Linked DNA regions of Homo sapiens. The protein of the gene in region 3 purifies or fractionates together with the protein of the main gene of each other region. This does not show direct contact. Each region holds a gene or a part of one and is shown on either strand. Other genes may lie near its edges.

Region 1 (4,740 bases), on a different chromosome or scaffold from region 3:
TAGTTTAGATTTGAGCTGATAATGTATGTGCATATTTCTGATGTATATAATGCTTGCTGTAAGGTTCCTTTGAGTTCCATTGTTAATCTTGATCACATAGCTGATTTAATGAATCAAACCAGAGTAGATTTAGAAATATATTTTCTTTCATTAATTCTAAAAAGTTATTCTTATTTCCTTACTATTAACTTCAAATCTCCTTTTTCAATTTAGTGTGAGATTAAACTTGCCCCCAAACGATCTCGTTTGGAGACTAGAGCTGGAGAAGAAGATGAAGGAGAAGAGGATTCTGATTCTGATTATGAAATATCTGCCAAGGCTCGCTACTTTGGTTATATAAAACAGGGCCTTTACTTGGTGACTGAAATGGAGCGATTTGCACCACCACGGAAACGCCCACGAACCATTACTAAAAACTACCGCCTTGTGAGTTTGCGCTCCACGACACCAGAGGAACTTTATCAGAGGAAGGTGAGAGAGTAGCATATTACTACCCAAGTTTGAAGTCATCAAGCTTTTCTTTTATTGAGAAAAAGTTAATTTTTTAATAAAGGAGAAAATTTCAAGAGGGATGTTGGATCATTGACATGTTAAAAATATCAGTTCTATAAAGCTTTTTAAAATAATGCTAATCTTTGTACCTAAATAATCAAAATCAAAACCATGGATAAAAATTGAATTCACTTAGACTGATTATCCACTTGGTGGCTTAGCTCATTTCTTTGCTACCCTTCATGTGGCCTTCAGCTCTCCCTTTATCTGTGTTTAAATCAGCCATCTACAGAGGGTGAAGGAAGAAGTTCAGACTTGCTTTCTAGTCCAGGGCTTGCTTGGGAAGCCGAGGTGACCAGCACTGTGTGTTCACGTGATTTGTGCTGTTCTTGCAATGTCGTGGTAGGAGCTCTGGACTAGAAGCCGGGTTGTTCCATGGTTGTCTTGGTTTTGCCGCTGTTTTACTCTAAAACGAGAGCTTTGCACCTTTTATCTCTCATCTTTCTGTTGAAGTGCTGAAAGAAACACGAGATCTTTCTGCTCCTCAAAATATCTGTGAGCTTCTGGTGCCACAGTGCACAGGAATTAGTGACATGCTGGATAAGTCCAAGGGATTATCATCATTCATTGTATCATCATCAGGACCCTGTGGATAATTCAGTCATGTAACATTCCTGTCCTCGTGTTTTTATCTGAAGATTGAAAGTGAAGAGTATGAGGAAGCCTTGTCCTTGGCTCATACCTACGGCCTGGATACTGACCTTGTATATCAGAGGCAGTGGAGGAAGTCAGCGGTCAACGTTGCTTCAATTCAGAATTATTTGGTATGTTTAAATATTTTGGTAATGTGGTAAAATGTATATTCATGTAATATCTTTTGTTTATAGGGCTTCATTTTAGAGTACTTTACATTGCTGACTTTTCTATAATACAGCCAATGAAGTACAATTTTCTCAGCTGGAAAAATGGTCTTTTTGTTAGATTTTATTGCCCCTGCAACTGGACTTTGATGCTGAATACATGTGAACAAATATTCACAGATAAACCAGCTAACTACTTGGTCTCGGCCTAACGTTTTCTTTCCTGTACCACAATCACTTCTCTTTACCTGCATGAGTCAAGAGCTAGTCAGATGCCAGAAATCACACAGTAATTTAAACAGGGAAATTTACAATATGGAGAATTATTTTCTAGTAACCAGAGATGAACTATAAAGGATGTGAAGAGAACGCTAAGGACTACCCTAGGGCTGAAGGGACATATCCATGAAGGGAATGAACTTGGAAGGGAGGCCCCTCCCCTAGGCTGGGATTCAGACCCATTGGACCAGGAGTGGTTGCAGCATGTAGGATGGAAGAGAAGTTCTCTGGGTTGCCTTGAGCCAGGGCTGGTCCACGGTTGCCAAGGTTGGCAGTCAGGGAGATATGGGATGGATAGGAAAGCTGGACGCCTGCTTCTGGGGGGGGCCAGTGAGCTGAGGTTGGGGTTTAGAAGACCCCAGGGACTAGGAAGCAGGAAACCCCTACCAGCATGCATGTGGCTCAAGGCTGGTAGATAATTAAGGAATCATGGCCAAGACTGGCAAGAAAAAACTGTCTACTCCTATAGGCAGCCTTACTGTAGCTTCCAGTCTGGGAAGCTTCCCTCTCAGGTGCCTGGGTGATTCACTAGAAAACAATCTGCCCATGAGAGTGTCACTGAAACTCAGTGGGAGGTTGTCAACAGAGGGAGGAAGCGGGGAAGTAAGTGCCACTTGATGTTGCCCACGTGCCTTGTTGGTGGCCAAGCCATAGGAGCAAGAAGAAAAGAACCAAAGCACATCAGGACTAGAAAGCAGAGCCTCTTCCTTTGCAGTGGCCCTCCAGCACCCAGAGCTTAAAATCGTGTCAACCACAAATGAGATATGCTACCACAGAGCTGGCTTTGAGGGGAAATTTGGAGCTGAGAGGCAATAAATAGGTAACATATATGAAAACTGCGAAATATGCCTTTTTAAAACTTAAATCTCAAAACTGGATACTTCCTGTTACCTGCCTCCCATAGTTAAGGTTAATATAGTCTTGTCTCAATTAGTTTTAGCCGCTGCAACAAAAATATCAGACTATGTGGTTTCAACAGCAGAAATTTATTTCTCTTAGTTCTAGAGGCTGGGAAGTGCAAAATCAAGGTGTTAGCCAATTTCGTTCCTGGTGAGGGCACTCTCCTGGTTTGCAGATGGATTTCTTTCTTGCTGTGTCCTTATATGGCAGACAGCAGAGAGAGAGAAAGAAGGCTCTCTACTGCCTCCTCTTATGAGGACACCAATCCTATCATGGGGCCTCCACTCTCATGACCTAATTGCTTTCTAAAGGTCTCATTTCCAAACATCATCACTCTGGGGATTAGTTTTTCAACATATGGATTTTGGGGGACATATTGATTTCATAGCAAGCCTATATGTTTTAACCTTTGGCATCTTTGTAAGAAAGAATTATAGTTAGACTCATGGCATACTTTTAAAAAGGTTGAGACTTCTGATCTTAACATATAGAAAGGAAAATACCTTTGCATTGTGGAAGATTATAGGAAACACTGGGAAAATTTCATGATGATTATTTCCCTAAAAGTTTTATACGTTAGTAATTAAAAGTAAAAATATAACATGAAAAAGTTGTATGGAAGAAGATGATGCATCAGCCAAACAGGATGATAAACCTAACATTAATACAAGCAAGATATCAGAGGTGAAAGAGCATGAGAGGTAATGAAACGGAAGAAGATAAAGTTGCTTGTATTTTCTTTAGAAAATCAAAACACTAATTCTGTATTATTTTTCTTTCTTGTTTTGTGATCTAAGACAATGAGCTCATGAGTTCATGTATATCTTTTTCTGGGATACAGTAAAGGACAGTTTTTGTCTCTGAGGGAGTTGAGGGATGTTAAGAGAGACAAAGCAAGTACTTTTTTGGGGAGGGGAATATTTCGTTTAGTTAAATAGACAGTTAAGAGCAAGAGCACTATGCTAGGGACTGTGAAGGGGTACAGGACAGGCATAAATGTGGCTTTTGCTCATAGGGAGCTTATGATTTTTTTTGTTTTGTTTTGAGATGGAGTTTTGCTTTTTTTTGCCCAGGCTGGATTGCAATGGTGCGATCTCGGCTCACTGCAGCTTCTGCCTCCCTGGTTCAAGTGATTCTCCCGCCTCAGCCTCCCAAGTAGCTTGGGACTACAGGCACACAACACCACACCTGGCTAATTTTTGTATTTTTAGTAGAGACGGGGGTTCACCATATTAAAAATAACTGGCCGTATAAGTAGATTTCAGATACAACTCTAGAAACCCAGTGAAGATAGTGATTATTATAGATCTGGTAGAGATGGAAGATTTTATATAGTGAAGATGTTTGGAGCAGGGATTTGGAAGGATTTAAATTAGGCCTTCTTGAATGAGAAGGGAGGAAGACATTCTTAACAGGACAGATGGTATGAACAAATTAAAAGACACTGAGCATGATTTATGAGGCCAGTGACTAAATCTGTTTTATTCACTGCTATATTTCCATGTCTAGTTCAGTGGCTGGTGTGCAGTAGGTGCCCAGTAAACATTTTATGGATAAATGAGCTCTGTACATCAACCAGTTTGCTGGCACTGATATTTGACAATAGTGAACACTGGGAAACATGATTGAAAAGATATATTGATTTGAGTTCAGGAGGATGTGGAAAGCTTCTGATGACTTAGGCATTTATCTACTGTTGTGGATTTCTGACTGTGGAAGCAGAGGAAGATGGTGTAGAGAGAATTGGAGTGGAAGGAAGGTAGGAAACCTTGCTTGGGGCAGGGGACTCCTACAGTGTGCTAGATGTTTTGTGTTGATGATTTAGACTGGTATGGAGGCCGCAGCTGTGGAAAAGGGAAAGTGAATTAAGAGACATTTGAAGAAAGAACTGATGTGAGGCAATATATAAAGGATCCTAGGGAATGAGTCAAATCTTAATTAAAATTTATAACCATAATAGCTCTTTCTAGGAAGAGGGCAAGTCAGGGATTTTTTTTTTATTTTTTATTTTTTAATTATTATTTTACTTTAAGTTCTAGGGTACATGTGCACAACGTGCAGGTTTGTTACATATGTATACATGTGCCATGGTGGTGTGCTGCACCCATTAACTCGTCATTTACATTAGGCATATCTCCTAATGCTATCCCTCCCCCCTCCCCCCACCCCCCAGCAGGCCCCGGTGTGTGATGTTCCCCACCCTGTGTCC
Region 2 (4,740 bases), on a different chromosome or scaffold from region 3:
CTTTATTGAATTTGGTAAGTTTTTGCCCCTCACTTCTCTCTATCAAGGGAGCAAACAATATGGAGAAGCTATTTGTTACACTGATATAATATTTATACATTTTTTCTGATGTTTACTTGCTGAAGTTTTAGCTTCTGCATCCTTTTCCATTCCACTTCTTTTTGTCTTTTTGAGTGACTAAGGCTTTGTTCTGAAAAGTAATTTTCTCTAGTCTTTTGATCTTTCCCCCATAGAAATTGTTGCCTTTTGCCCTTTCTGTTATTTGGTTTGATTCTTCTTTAGAGTCACATGTGACAGGAACTGTGCCTAAAGATCTACTTGATTGGCATATAATGGCTGAGTTCTTCTTTACCCCAGTCCACAGACTCACACTCACAATAAGGCTCATTTTATGGAGATCAGAATTGGGAAATCAGAAAGAATGATGTTTTGTTTCTTTTAGTAGAATAAGATCCTCTAATTAAAAAAACAAAACATAACAAAGAAATAGAAGATACCTGGTACTCATGGTATTGGGGTATAATATTTACTACATTCAGGAATAGTGAGCATAGGTGTCTGTATTTGTGCAAGAATTATAGAAAGACTAATTACTAATCAGACCTGGTAAAGTATCTGATGGTAAGGGATCAAAGGAAATGTCCTAAGTACAGTAAGTACAGGGAGTGAGAACAAGTAGGATCAGGCTATATCGCTGAAATTTTTAGTTAAAAGAGAAATTGGTTTTACTGGCTTAGAATTTTTGAAGTGTTTCAAGTTTGCTAGATAAATGGGTCATCTTGCTTTGGAAAAACACTCTAGTGTTTCATAACTATATACTCTCCAAGTGCTGCTTTATATAATGTCCAGTTTTTCAAATTTTATTTTTATAGACAGTAATACTCCCATAAACCTCCCTCAAAAATAAGACAAATGTATCAGGGTCATACAGGAAACAGATGGCACACCCAAATTAGCTTAAGGGATTATATACAAAGATATGACTAGGCTGTAGGAGAATTACAAGGTACAGTAACCTCTGACCAGTAGCATACTGGTTGTTACCATCCCTAGGCCTGAATGTATAAGGGGGAGGAGCAGTTTCTGAAACTGAAAAGGAGAAAATTTCTAGAGAAGGCCAACTTGAGAGGAGCGTAACTTTTGGTAGAGGGATACTTCCAGAAGAAGGTTATTTCCTTCTCTGAAAGAAGCCAGGGGAATAAATACCCGGACATCACTCACTGTCTGTTCTCCTTCTTCCCTACTGTTGGGGCTTCTTCATTGCCTGAACCTAACTGGCACAGAGCAAGGAGTCTTGAGGCGCTTCATCCAAGTCAGCTTCCCAGTGCAGAAAGCAAGGTGCAGGAGGGCAGAGAGGAGATCTAAAGAGGCAAATGAAAGGGGTACAGCACACTTAAATTAAGATTTTTGCCAAAAGTTGAAAATATCTTTAATAATAAGTCATTCTTCCTATAGTTTTGAGAAATACTGATATGAGCAAAAGATGGATGAGACTTCAGTTTTTATTTATTTATTTATTTACTTAGAGACAGAGTCTCGCTCTATTGCCCAGGCTGGGGTGCAGTGGCATGATTTTGGCTAACTGCAACCTCTGCCTCCTAGGTTCAAGTGATTCTTGTGCCTCAGCCTCCTGAATAGCTGGGACTAGAGGTGCACGCTGCCATGACCAGCTAGCTAATTTCGGTATTTTTGGTAGAGATGGGAGTTTTGCCTTGTTGGCCAGGCTGGTCTCGAATTCCTGGCCTCAAGTGATCCACCCATCTTGGCCTCCCAAAATGCTGGGATTTATACGTGTGAGACACAGTGCCTGGCCGAGACTTCAGTTCAGTTTTGTATTGGTATTTTGGAAAACTCCCTATTACATATTTGCTTTACCTGAGGTTTAAGAATGGAATGAAACTGGGAATGTATATTAGAGAAAAGGTAAAGTTTCTCAGCTTTTTAATGATCATGAACCCTTTTGCCATGTTAGGCTGTAATAATGCTAGAGTGTTACCAGCATCCTTTTAAGGAATGTGTAGAGGTAAGTAACACTTAGCCTAAGGGTCCTCAGAATACTGTTTGAAAATTTCTGTTTTCAGGAAAGGCTTACTATAGTGGGTCTTAATTTCTCTAAGGATTCTGATAGCAGCCTTAGATAGCAAATACTTCTAATTCAAAGGTATTCAAAGGACATTTCTCCTGAATGGTCGTCTAATTATACCTTTACATCTTACAAATGAAATAATCAAAGCCTAGATTTTGATATTCAACCAAGAGTTTGGTTAACCATGGACAGTGGCAAATCCAGGAATAAACTCAGAACTGTTTTGGTTTTTTTTTTTTTGTTTTTGAGACAGAGTCTTGCTCTGTCACCCAGGCTAAAGTGTGGTGGTGGTGTGATCTCGGCTCACTGCAACCTCTGCCTCCCAAGTTCAAGTGATTCTCCTGGCTCAGCCTCCTGAGTAGCTGGGATTATAGGCGTGTGCCGCCACGCCTGGCTAACTTTTTATATTTTTAGTAGAGACGGGGTTTCACTGTGTTAGCCAGGATGGTCTCGATTTCCTGACCTCATGATTCACCTGCCTTGGCCTCCCAAAGTGCTGGGATTACAGGTGTGAGCCACCGCGCCTGGCCAACTCAGAACTTTTAATCTCCTACCTCAGTACTTTGATGGCCATGAAAGAAATGGTCAGTTTTCTTCATCATTCTAGATACTTTCATTCAGAAAACCAAGAAGCTCTACATTGACAGTCGTGCTCGAAGAAATCTAGGCTCCATCAACACTGAATTGCAAGATGTGCAGAGGATCATGGTGGCCAATATTGAAGAAGTGTTACAACGAGGAGAAGCACTCTCAGGTATCTAAAAGCAATGAGTCTTATGAAGAAATGGTTCTCATTCCATAGACAAGGATAGCTTATTTTGCAGTGCCTTTTATGCTATTAGATTCTACCTAGAACTGTTAAGAATTTATCTCCCAGAAGTACATTACATTACAATGCTTCCAATATATTTTTTTTCCTAGCATGATTAGTTTTTGTTGAGTTGGAACAGTGTAAAGGACTCATCCATATTAGAAGCAATGATTATTTCTAAGATATTCACAAAATTAATTAAATTATATAACTTGTATAAATTAAGGGAAATGAATGAGAGAAAACTCAATGATGTATTGCAGTGGTTTTTTGAGTAGCCTCTTTGGGAGACTTTACTGCTGCCAGATCAATCTTTATAAAATGCCATTTTCATCAAGGCATTCCTCTGAAAAACTTTTAAATCTGGGACTACAAGATAAGATCCAGTCTGACTTATTTTTCCGTCAGTCAGCCATTGTTATTGAGAGCTTGTTATTTGTAAGGCATTGTGCTCTACATATGGAAAATAAGGAAGATGCAAATGTCTGTCATTCTCTAGTTCACAAACATTCTTCTGTAGCCACACCAGCTTCTTTACTATCCTTAGTGGTCTATTCTGCCTTATGCTGGACCTGTTCTGTAAGACCTCCATAAGAACTGTCTCTTTAAAGAACCTTTCTCTGATCCTTATAGCCTGTATCACATTAATCTCTTCTGTACTTTAAACTCCTAAAGCACTTAATAACATAATGGTTTTAGCACATATTACATGTATGTGTGTTTACCTAATTTACCTTAAATATATTTATTAAATACCTCTTACCATATTAAATATATATTTAATATATATTAAATATATTTCCATATAACATAAGTATATATTTCATATATTTATATTAAAGTAGGCAAACATATTTGGATAATTAAATATTTTTATATAATTTCGTATATTTTTTTGAGACAGAGTCTTGTTCTGTTGCCCAGGCTGGAGTGCAATGGCACGATCTTGGCTCACTGCAACCACCATCTCCTGGGTTCAAGCGATCTTCCCACCTTATCCTCCTGAGTACCTGGGGCTACAGGCATGTGCCACCACGCCTGGCTAATTTTTGTATTTTCTTAGTAGAGATGGGGTTTTGCCATGTTGTTCCGGCTGGTCACAAACTCCAGGGCTCAAGCAATCCACTCACTTCAGCTTCCCAAAGTGCTGGGATTACAGGCATGAGCCACAACACCCAGCCCTTTATATAATTTTAAAAGTGTAGGTAATTAGGTAAAATTAGGTTAAAAGTATATGTATATTTACCTGATATTTAAATATTACCTAAGTGTTTAATGTGGACATGTAAGCTCTTTAAAGATAGTGCTTATGTATTTTATATCTGTTTCACATACTCCTTATATATCCCCCACAGAAATGGTCACAAATAGGTTCCTTAATAAGTATTTTTGAATTCAGCCATGCTATATATTCATTAGTAAGTGAGTTTTCTTTTATTATGAACTACAAACTTTAACCTTTTTTTGAGTAGTGAGCAGTTATTCATTTACCTTCACACTCTTTAAATACCAAATTTTGAGTGAGTGAGTGTGTAAGGTTTTGTCATACAGACTTGCAATTCCTATATGGGATAAAGTAGACTAGCACAGGAATTTTTCTTGTATCACTCATGCAAGACTCTAAATTCCTTAAAGGCAGGGATCATGTATATTTTGATCACTGTTGTATCCTCAGCACTTCACATGGTGCCTGTCACATAAATATTTGTTAAATGACTTCTCCAAGCAATAGCTTTGTCTTTATGTTATCCTGTATTTCAAAACGTTCATATATAAATTCTCTCAACTATGACTTGTTTCATAGGGTCTAATAATTGTTCCTCTGCTGAGTTATTCTCAGCAG
Region 3 (5,263 bases):
TTTTTTTTTTTGAGAGACGGTGTCTCGCTCTATTGCCCAGGCTGGAGTGCAGTGGCCTGATCTTGGCTCACTGTGACCTCTGCCTCCCGAGTTCAAGCAATTCTTCTGCCTCAGCCTCCTGAGTAGCTGGGATTACAGGCGCCCACCATCACGCCTGGCTAATTTTTGTATTTTTACTAGAGACAGAGTTTCGCTGTGTTGGCCAGGCTGGTCTCTAACACTGGCCTCATGTGATTCACCCACCTTGGCTTCCCAAAGTGCTGGGATTACAGGTGTGAGCAACCACGCCCAGCCAATTGCATCAGTTACACACTGGTGGAATGTTCTCTCTCAGTCAGCAATAGTCAAGTGGGGGCGAGTGGGGAAGGGATAAATAGGGCCTATCTGAGCAGGTGGAGCTGAACATAGTTTACAAAAGCATATTTAACATTATACTGTATTGTATATTTTTAATCAAAAAATATGATTGCTTTTGTAATACAGGGTCATTTTTTATCTAAGGATAATTGGTACCAGAAAAAATCTACAGAAAGAAAACCTGCTGAAGGTGGACCAAAATTTAGAAGGTTTTGAGTGGGATGCTGTCTAAAAATAAAATAAAATAAAATGCAAGAAAAACCGTAAATTAAACAAAATTGAGGTCAAAAATTAAAACCAAAATCGAGGTTGTAATTGCAGGTGTGTGCTAATCCTTGATTATATAGTTACAGTTATATGCCATTTCTTGTTATTGAATTGGGAGAGGTTTAACTTTTCCAATGAAATTGTCAGACAACATGAAACAGTATCTTTCCCTTCACATTTGACTTTTGTACCAATCATAAAGAGGGTTTTTCCAAACATATTTGAGGTATTCAGATCATTCTCTCTCTTTTTTAAAAATACATTTTTGGCCCAGTGCGGCGGCTCACGCCTGGAATCCCAGCGCTTTGGGAGGCCGAGGTGGGCAGATCATGAGGTCAGGAGTTCGAGACCAGCTTGACCAACATGGTGAAACCCCTCTCTACTAAAAATACAAAAATTAGCCGGGTGTGGTGGCACACACCTGTAATCCCAGCTACTCGGGAGGCTGAGGCAGGAGAATCGCTTGAGCCCGGGAGGCAGAGGTTGCAGTGAGCCGAGATTGCTGCACTCCAGCCTGGGTGACAGAGTGAGACTCCACCTTAAAAACAAAAAAAAAATATTTTTATTTTTAAAAAATTAAAAAATTTTGGAAATGAGGTCCTTCTCTGTTGCCCAGTCTGGAGTACAGTCATAGCTTACTGCAGCCTCAGGAACTCCTGGGCTCAAGCGATCCTCTCACCTCAGCTTCCCAAGTAGTTGGGACTACAGCACACTCCACCGTGCCTGGCTAAATCATTCTCTTTTGAAACCCCTGCTAAGTTGTCATTCCCATGGGTTTTCTCTTTGTCTCTTGTTCACTGGTCTGCCTCTGCCAGATCTGTATTTGTGGCTTTGCTTCTGATTTGAGCAATTTGCCAGCATCATCTTCCCTGCAAGCAGCTGTGTATGTAACAGTCAGCTGTCAGGAAGACACCGACTGGCAAAAACACAGGCACAGGGAGGCCAGTGTAAGCAGGGAGGGCTGTATGAGTGGTGGGCAGTGATCCAGGGCTTGGCTATTTCACGAATACTTTATGTTATGATGGCTTTTGCTTTCCTGAGCCACCAAGCCTACTCAGATTATAAACACTGAGTACAGAGGAGCCCTTGTATAAAGTATGGTAAGTTATGCCAGACACACTCAGCTTAGCATGGGTTTAAAGCTGGGAATGGCCATCCACAATGTAGCATTACAGGCCAGAGCAGAGAAAGCTGTCAATTTATACTTTGGGGCTATGTGCAGTAGCTCACACCTATAATCCCAGCACTTCGGGGGCCGAGGCAGGAGGACTGCTTGAGCCCAGGAGTTTAAGACCATCCTGGGCAACAAAGCAAAACCTCATCTATTAAAAAAAAAAAAAATTAGCTGGGGGCATGCTGATGTGTGCCTGTAGTCTCAACTACTTGGGAGGCCAAGGCAGGAGGGCAGTGGGCTCGGGAGGTCAAGGCTGCAGTGAGCCGTGATCATGTGACTGCACCTGGCCTAGGAGACAGAACGAGACCCTGCCTCTTTTCTTTTGTTTTTTTTTTTTTTTGAGACAGAGTCTCACTCTGTCACCCAGGCTGGAGTGCAGTGGCGCAATCTCGGCTCACTGCAAGCTCCACCTCCCGGGTTCACGCCATTCTCCTGCCTCAGCCTCTCCGAGTAGCTGGGACTACAGGCACCCGCCACCACGCCTGGCTCATTTTTTATATTTTTAGTAGAGATGGGGTTTCTCCGTGTTAGCCAGGACGGTCTCGATCACCTGACCCTCATGATCCGCCGGTCTCAGCCTCCCAAAGTGCTGGGATTACAGGCGTGAGGCACCGTGCCCAGCCGACCCTGTCTCAAAAAAAAAACAAAAAAAACAAAAAAAACCAACTTTGGCAGTTGAAGCAGTAGTTGTGCTTGCTTGGGTCATCATGCTTGTCACACCATACAGTGAGTATCTGTTTGCTTGTCTTTTTCCCAAATGAATGTGAGGTGGTTGAGGAGAAGTACTGCCCCTCATTCATCTCTGGATCCCAGGGTCCTGCAGAACCCCCTTGCAAACTGTTTCAAAATGTAATGGATTCTTTAAAGTGGCAGGTGTGAAATGGCGGAGCAGGTGCTCATTAAGACCTTCAGCATAAAGGTGCTATTAGAAAACCACCCTGTCAGTTCATGTACTCTGTGTTTTGATTTTTGAGTATTTCCAGAGATTAGCACAATTGGTTTGAGCTGGCTACATAAGAGTTCTGAAGTATGAGTTTGATTCTTAGAGAGACGCAGTTAGCTTTTTTATAGTCTATCAACAACTGTCAACATTTCTTTTTTTTTTTGAGACGGAGTCTTACTCTCATTGCCCAGGCTGGAGTGCAGTGGCGTGATCTTGGCTCACTGCAACCTCTGCCTCCTAGATTCAAGTGATTTTCCTGCCTCAGACTCCCGAGTAGCTGGGATTACAGGCACTCGCCATCATGTCCAGCTAATTTTTGTATTTTTAGTAGAGACAGGGTTTTAACATGTTGGCCAGGCTGGTCTCGAACTCCTGACCTCAAGTGACCCACCCGCCTCGGCCTCTCAAAGTGTTGGGATTACAGATGTGAGCCACCACGCCCGGTCAACTGTCACATTTCTAACTCCAGGAAGCTGTTCACCAACTTTCCGTTATCACCCACAAGTTAGCGCAGGTGAAGACTGTAGATCCGCCGTGTCAGTCAGGGCTCTGCTAATCCATCATGTTTGTGTCATTCATGATTGGTCTGTAGTATGGAAAGAACAACAAACCTTGAAGAAATATTTTGAAAGATTGGCTTTTTGTGTGTGTGTGTGTGTTTTTTTTTTTTTTTCTTGAGAGAAGGTCTTACTCTGTCACCCAGGCTGGAGTATAGTGGTACTATCACGGCTCACTGCAACCTCCACTTCCCAGGCTCAGGTGATCTTCGCTCCTCCGCCTCCTGGGTAGCTGGAACCACAGGCATGCGCCACCACCATGCCTGGCTAATTTTTTGTATTTTTAGTAGAGACGGGGTTTCTCCATGTTGCCCAGGCTGGTCTTGAACTCCTGGGCTCAAGTGATCCCCCCACCTCGGCCTCCTAAAGTGCTATGATTACAGGTGTGAACCACTGTGCCTGGCCACGATTTTTTATTTCCTACAAAGTATATTAACTCAGCAGCTGAAGGGCCAGAAATGGTTGTTCAAGATACTGGAGATGAGTAAGTCATGGTTCTCCGGGGATGGTACCAATTAATACACAGGCCATAGCAGTACAGCCTTAGAGGCAACTGGACTGAAGAGGGGCCTTGTGTGACCAGCTGGGAAGTTTGGATGCCTCCCTGAAGTCCAGCCATTGTGGAGCTGTGCACAGAGGAGTGCCATGTTCACAGCCCCTTGGGCTGACGGGGGCAGAGTGACAGCAACAGAGCCTCCCCGTGGCGACCTCCAGGGTCCGGTCAAGGGGTATCAGGACCTGAGCAAGAACAGTTGCTGGGGAACCAGGAGGCGGAAGTGGCAGGAGGTGGGATGGGCTCTGAAGGCCGTGCCTGGTGGCCTTCTCCCGTGTGCCTTTGTTGGGGGGAAGTGCTGTGAATTGAACTGACTTATGGCTTGGTGGAGTGGACACACTCACACGTGAACCTTCCAATTCCAGCAATCAGGCCTCATGGAGGAAAGCTAATCTCACCTGCAAAATTGCAATCGACAATCTAGAGAAAGCAGAACTTCTTCAGGGAGGAGATCTCTTAAGGCAAAGGTACCTATTCTTTTATTTTTCTGGGCTCCGATAATAATAGATAACAATTGGCAAGGTGTAGGAAACCCCCTCTTGTTTTCAGCTTGGTGCTTAATTTAATTACATAAGTAATTTTTTTAAGTTTGAAAAAAATGCATACTTATTTGTAGTAAATTGGTAAAATAAAGTATGAATTACAAAATTAAAATATTGAATTTTTTTTTTTTTCTGAGATGAAGTCTCACTCTTGTAGCCCAGGCTGGAGTGCAGTGGTGCCCTCTTGGCTCACCGCAACCTCCGCCTCCTGGGTTCAAGTGATTCTCCTGCCTCAGCCTCCAAAGTATCTGGGATTACAGTTGCGTGCCACTGCACCCAGCTAATTTTTTGTATTTTTAGTAGAGACGGGGTTTAACCACGTTGGCCAGGCTGGTCTTGAACTCCTGACTTCTGGTGATCCACCCACCCCAGCCTCCCAAAGTGCTAGGATTATAGGCGTGAGCCACCATGCCCGGCCGAAAATATCAAATCTTATTACTCATGAACATTTTGGTATATTCTCTCCCTCATTTTTATTTCTACATTTCTTACAAAGTCAAAATTGTACCATACATAAAATTTCATATTCTGCTGTTTCAGCACAAAAGTTGTTCATTAAAAAAAAAAAAAAAGCTTTTTAAGCCTAATTCTAACAGTACATAGTATGTAGATTGTATGTTAATACAATTCCCTGTGTGTGTTTGCATTTCTAGTGTTTAAGTAGTGTAAGTAATACACCAGGGCATGTCTTAGAACATAAGGCTTTATCCACATTTTGGATGTTTCCTTTGGAGGGATTTCCAGGGATGAGATGATTGAGTCAAAGGAATGAACATTACCAAGGCTCTTCAATTGGCAAATTGCTTTACAGAAGGCAGCACTGGTTTATGTTCCTACTAGCAGTCCACAGGGGCGTGGGTCTCAGCACAC
Region 4 (4,740 bases), on a different chromosome or scaffold from region 3:
AAGAAAAAAAAAAAAGACAATTTACAGGCAGGCATGGTGGCTCACGCCTGTAATCCCAGCACTTTGGGAGGCCGAGGCAGGTGGATCACCTGAGGTCAGGAGTTCGAGACCAGTCTGGGCAATATGAAACCCCATCTCTAGTAGAGCCGCCACCATGCCTGGCTAATTTTTTTGTATTTTTAGTAGAGACGGGGTTTCACTGTGTTAGCCAGGATGGTCTCGATCTCCTGACCTCGTGACCTGCCCACCTCAGCCTCCCAAAGTGCTGGGATTACAGGTGTGAGCCACCGTGCCTGGCCAACTGCCTGTAAATTTTTGTATTTTTAGTAAAAATACAAAAAAAAATTAACCAGGCATGGTGGCAGGCATCTGTAATCCCAGCTACTCAGGAGGCTGAGGTAGGAGAATTGCTTGGACCCAGGAGGCGGAGGTTGCAGTAAGCCGAGATTGCGCCATTGCACTCCAGCCTGGGTGACAAGAGCGAAATTCTGTCTCAAAAAAAAGAATTTACAATTGACATGATGAGATGTCTGAAATTTTCTTTGAAATACTCCAGAAAAAAAAAATTGAGGAGTAAAATATAACAGAAAAGTGATAATTGCTTTAAACTTTGGCAATAGGTACCTGAGAGTTCATCATATTATCCTACTTTTGTGTATGTTTGAAAATTTTCTGAATAAAAAGTTTTTAAGAGACATGAATTTTCCTTAATTTTTTTGTCTTAGTATTTTTCATATTTTTCTTATAGTTAAAAATATGGAATGATGACTGGGCACGGTGGCTCATGCCTGTAATCCCAGCACTTTGGGAGGCCGAGGCAGGTGGATCACAAGGTCAGGAGTTCAAGACCAGCCTGGCTAAGATGGTGAAACCCCGTCTCTACTAAAAATTCAAAAATTAGCTGGGCGTGGCAGCAGGTGCCTATAATCCCAGCTACTTGGGAGGCGGAGGCAAAAGAATTGCTTGATCCTGGGCAGCAGAGGTTGCAGTGAGCCGAGATCATGCCACTGCACTCCAGCCTGGGTGACAGAGTGAGACTCCATCTCAAAAAAAAAAAAAAAAAAAAAAAAAGGAATTATTTACTGACTGGGCTGGAATGATACTTCTTCAGGTTACCAGACAAGCCTAAGAAACGGACAGGCTAGTGGTTGACGAAGGTGAAGAGGGCCAGGGATGGTGGCAATGAGGGTCCAGTGGCACCTGGACAACAAGCAGGCCCACAAGGGGGCAACGTGATTGGCTAAAGACCAACCAGGGCCAGAGGATGCTAGGCTACCCTCCAGCCAGAGAATCCCTGCACTGTAACAAAAGTTCCTATTACTACTCCAATCCTTAAAATTACTTCATTATTTTACTCTCTTCTGCAATCTTTGATAAATCAAGATCAAGACAATATTTAAAATATAGGCCAATCACCATTTACTGAAGACACCTAAAAAGCCCAATAGCAAGACAGTTTGGATAATAAAATTAAATTCCTATTTAATTGTTTTTGTGTAATTATTCAGGAAGTTTTCCTTCATGTATACCAATGTTTAAATCCTTAAATTATTAAAAACCCAAAAGTTAGAATATTGTGTTAGATTTCTACCAATATAGAAACTGAATTTGAAGATAACAACCATCATATAATATTAATTTGCTGAGCCACTTATTTATTGATTACTTTATTGACAGGGTCTCACTCTGTCACCAAGGCTGGACTGCAGTGGCGTGATCATGGCTCACTGCAACCTCTACCTCCCATGCTCAAAAAATCCTCCCACCTCAGCCTCCCAAGTAGCTGGGACTACAGGCACACACCACCACAACTGGCTAATTTCTGTATTTTTTCGGAAGAGAGGGCATTTCACCATGTACCCCAGGCTGTTCTCGAACTCCTGGGCTCAAGCAACCTGCCCGTCTCAGCCTCTCAAAGTGCTAGGATTACAGGCATGAGCCACTGCACCCAGCCTACTGAGCTACTTTAAAAACTACCACGTGAAAACAGTACTTTTAAAACAAAGTCATATCTTAAAAGACATACTTACCAGTTATAACCAAGAGTAGAGTCATAAAAGTTTCTGCACAATCTGGAACTTTCATTTCATCCACGTCAGTGATATCCTTATATTGCGATACCCAGGCAGCTTCTGAGGAAAGCATTGAGTCCATTTTTTGAAGAGCAACTGATAAGCAGACAAAACAATTATGTCAATTAAGTAGTTACAGTCGTTCCTAATTATTCAACTTGTAATTTTTTAGGAATGATGGCTTTTCTATAAAAAAGAAACAAACCTACAATATCCCACTGGTTGTACTAAATTTAACTTAATTAATGCTTTAAACAGGATACTTTACTCCCATCCCCAAATTCTGAAAATAGTTATGTTGACTAGATAAGCTACAGTAAAAAATATTCTATTGGCCAGGCACGGTGGCTCACACCAGTAATCCCAGCACTCCAGGAGGCCAAGGTGGGTGGATTGCTTGAGTCTAGGAGTTCACAACCAGCTTGGGCAAAACCCCAGGGAAACCCCATCTCTACAAAAAATACAAAAAGTAGCCAGGCATGGCTTGCATATACCTATACTCCCAGCTACTGGGGTGGCTGAGGCAGGAGGATCACCTGAGCCCCAGAGGTCGAGGCTGCAGTAAGCCATGATCGGCCCACTCCACTCTAGCCTCGGTGACAAAGTGAGACCCTATCTCAAAAATAAAAAAATAAAATATTCTGACACTTTGGGAGGCCAAGGCAGGTGGATTACTTGAAGTCAGGAGTTCCAGACCAGCCTGGCCAACATGTTGTAACCCTGTCACTCCTAAAAACAGAAAAATTAGCCAGGCGTGGTAGTGCGTGCCTGTAATCCTAACTACTCGGGAGGCTGAGACAGGAGAATCGCTTGAACGCAGGGGGTGGAGGTTGCAATGAGCTGAGATCAAACTACTGCACTTTAGCCTGGACAACAGAGCAAGAGTCTGTCCCAAAATAAATAAATAAAAATAAAATAAATTATATGATAAAATCTATAAAACAAACACCCCACTGGCTTGACTATTCCACTCTAGAAATATGTAGAGTGTAATTTCAGGAAAAATGGAAGTTTCATGTGAAGTAAAGAAAAGATTATCTCTGAAGGAAACAGAAAACCCTGAAAAGGAAATTTCAAATGGCTCTAGTTCCTATTTAGAACTGGAGAAGAAAAATATCAAAAATGTATACCCACAGAAACAGACATATCTCCCTACCATCTGGCCACATCAGCACTTACATTTTCTCTCCACCGTCAACCATCTCTGAAAACAGGTTTCCTCTGATAGAATATGCATACAACTAGCAAAAGTGCCAGGATAGCCATGAACACTGTGTAGCTCCCTTTCAAACAAGAGTACTTCATCCACCAAATGACAGAAGAGATTGTCATCATATAGCAGACAAGGAATATCAGTGGCTAACTTCTCAAGAACCAGCATCATAAGGCCCCGAGAAAATTCAAGCTAAAAAAATACACAAACATGAGGTATGTAAATAAAAAGTTATCCATGCACACATACAGTTCTAAAACAGAAACACTTATGACTGAGTCTCTTACCCTTGCGTTTACCAAAGAGCCTACTTTGTCTAATATTGGCTGAATCTTCTCATCCAGAAATTCAGTATGGTTTCCAATCCACATAAGTACTTGAGCCAAGTACCATTCTGGCTAAGGAAGGAGGAAAATAGTTTGAATTCTTAAGTCATTCCAATTAGAAAGTTACAATTACATGGTTCTATTTAATTGTATATGCACAACACTTATAAAAATTAGTTGAAAATTCCTGTATGTAAGAGCACAATTTCTACTCCAAATTTTAAACTCCTGCAAGGCTTAATAATCAAATGTTTGCTAATGTACTCCCAACAAATTTCAATAATATGACTTAAGTCAATAAACTCATAAATTTACAATGCCATATATATTTAAAACCTAGCACTTCAATAATATGTAAAATGATGAGTATTACAAAGAACTGATGGCCTATATTTTTTGAAATAGCATTTGAAAATAATTTTAATATTATTTTCTTATGGTTTTTATTTTCAAAAAGTAAATCAAGAAAAAAATTGCTGGCCAGGCGTGGCAGCTCATGCCTGTAATCCCAGCACTTTGGGAGGCCGAGGTGGGTGGATCAGCTGAGGTCAGAAGTTCAAGACCAGACTGGTCAACATGGTGAAACCCCGTCTCACCTAAATATACAAAAATTAGCTGGGCGTGGTGGTGGGCACCTGTAATCCCAGCTACTCAAGAGGCTGAGGCAGGAGAATCGCTTGAACGCGGGAGGCAGAGGTTGCAGTGAGCCGAGATCACACCATTGCGCTCCAGCCTGGGCAACAAGAGTGAAACTTCGTTCCAAAAAAAAAAAATTGCTAGTCTGCATTACAAAAACTACGCATGTCTTATACAGGTTTAAGAGCAGAAATACCAAGTACATGCCAGGCGCAGTGGCTCACTCCTGTAATCCCAGCACTTTGGGAGGCTAAGTCAGGTGGATCACCTGAGGTCAGGAGTTCCAGACCAGCCTGACCAATATGGTGAAACCCATCTCTACTAAAATTACAAAAATTAGTCCAGTGTGGTGACATGTGCCTGTAGTCCCAGCTACTTGGGAGGCTGAGGCAGGAGAATCGCTTGAACCTGGGAGGTGGAGGTTGCAGTGAGCAGAGATTGTGCCACTGCACTCCAGCCTGGGTGACAGAGCGAGACTCCAACTCACAAAAAA

The links.
Region 1: the proteins of BNIP1 (region 3) and NBAS purify together in Homo sapiens (co-immunoprecipitation; 3 studies listed by BioGRID and IntAct, with this or other methods). This does not show direct contact.
Region 2: the proteins of BNIP1 (region 3) and SEC22B purify together in Homo sapiens (affinity purification with mass spectrometry; 3 studies listed by BioGRID and IntAct, with this or other methods). This does not show direct contact.
Region 4: the proteins of BNIP1 (region 3) and RINT1 purify together in Homo sapiens (co-immunoprecipitation; 4 studies listed by BioGRID and IntAct, with this or other methods). This does not show direct contact.

The regions. Positions count from the first base shown.
Region 1 is NC_000002.12:15,469,798-15,474,537, reverse strand, and holds part of NBAS (NBAS subunit of NRZ tethering complex), read left to right. Parts: intron 1-213; coding exon 214-471; intron 472-1,190; coding exon 1,191-1,316; intron 1,317-4,740. UniProt on the Homo sapiens protein: Involved in Golgi-to-endoplasmic reticulum (ER) retrograde transport; the function is proposed to depend on its association in the NRZ complex which is believed to play a role in SNARE assembly at the ER. Required for normal embryonic development.
Region 2 is NC_000001.11:120,158,484-120,163,223, reverse strand, and holds part of SEC22B (vesicle-trafficking protein SEC22b), read left to right. Parts: coding exon 1-14; intron 15-2,693; coding exon 2,694-2,840; intron 2,841-4,740. UniProt on the Homo sapiens protein: SNARE involved in targeting and fusion of ER-derived transport vesicles with the Golgi complex as well as Golgi-derived retrograde transport vesicles with the ER.
Region 3 is NC_000005.10:173,154,528-173,159,790, forward strand, and holds part of BNIP1 (vesicle transport protein SEC20), read left to right. Parts: intron 1-4,216; coding exon 4,217-4,318; intron 4,319-5,263. UniProt on the Homo sapiens protein: As part of a SNARE complex may be involved in endoplasmic reticulum membranes fusion and be required for the maintenance of endoplasmic reticulum organization. Also plays a role in apoptosis.
Region 4 is NC_000007.14:105,548,998-105,553,737, reverse strand, and holds part of RINT1 (RAD50-interacting protein 1), read right to left. Parts: intron 3,684-4,740; coding exon 3,573-3,683; intron 3,478-3,572; coding exon 3,252-3,477; intron 2,169-3,251; coding exon 2,031-2,168; intron 1-2,030. UniProt on the Homo sapiens protein: Involved in regulation of membrane traffic between the Golgi and the endoplasmic reticulum (ER); the function is proposed to depend on its association in the NRZ complex which is believed to play a role in SNARE assembly at the ER.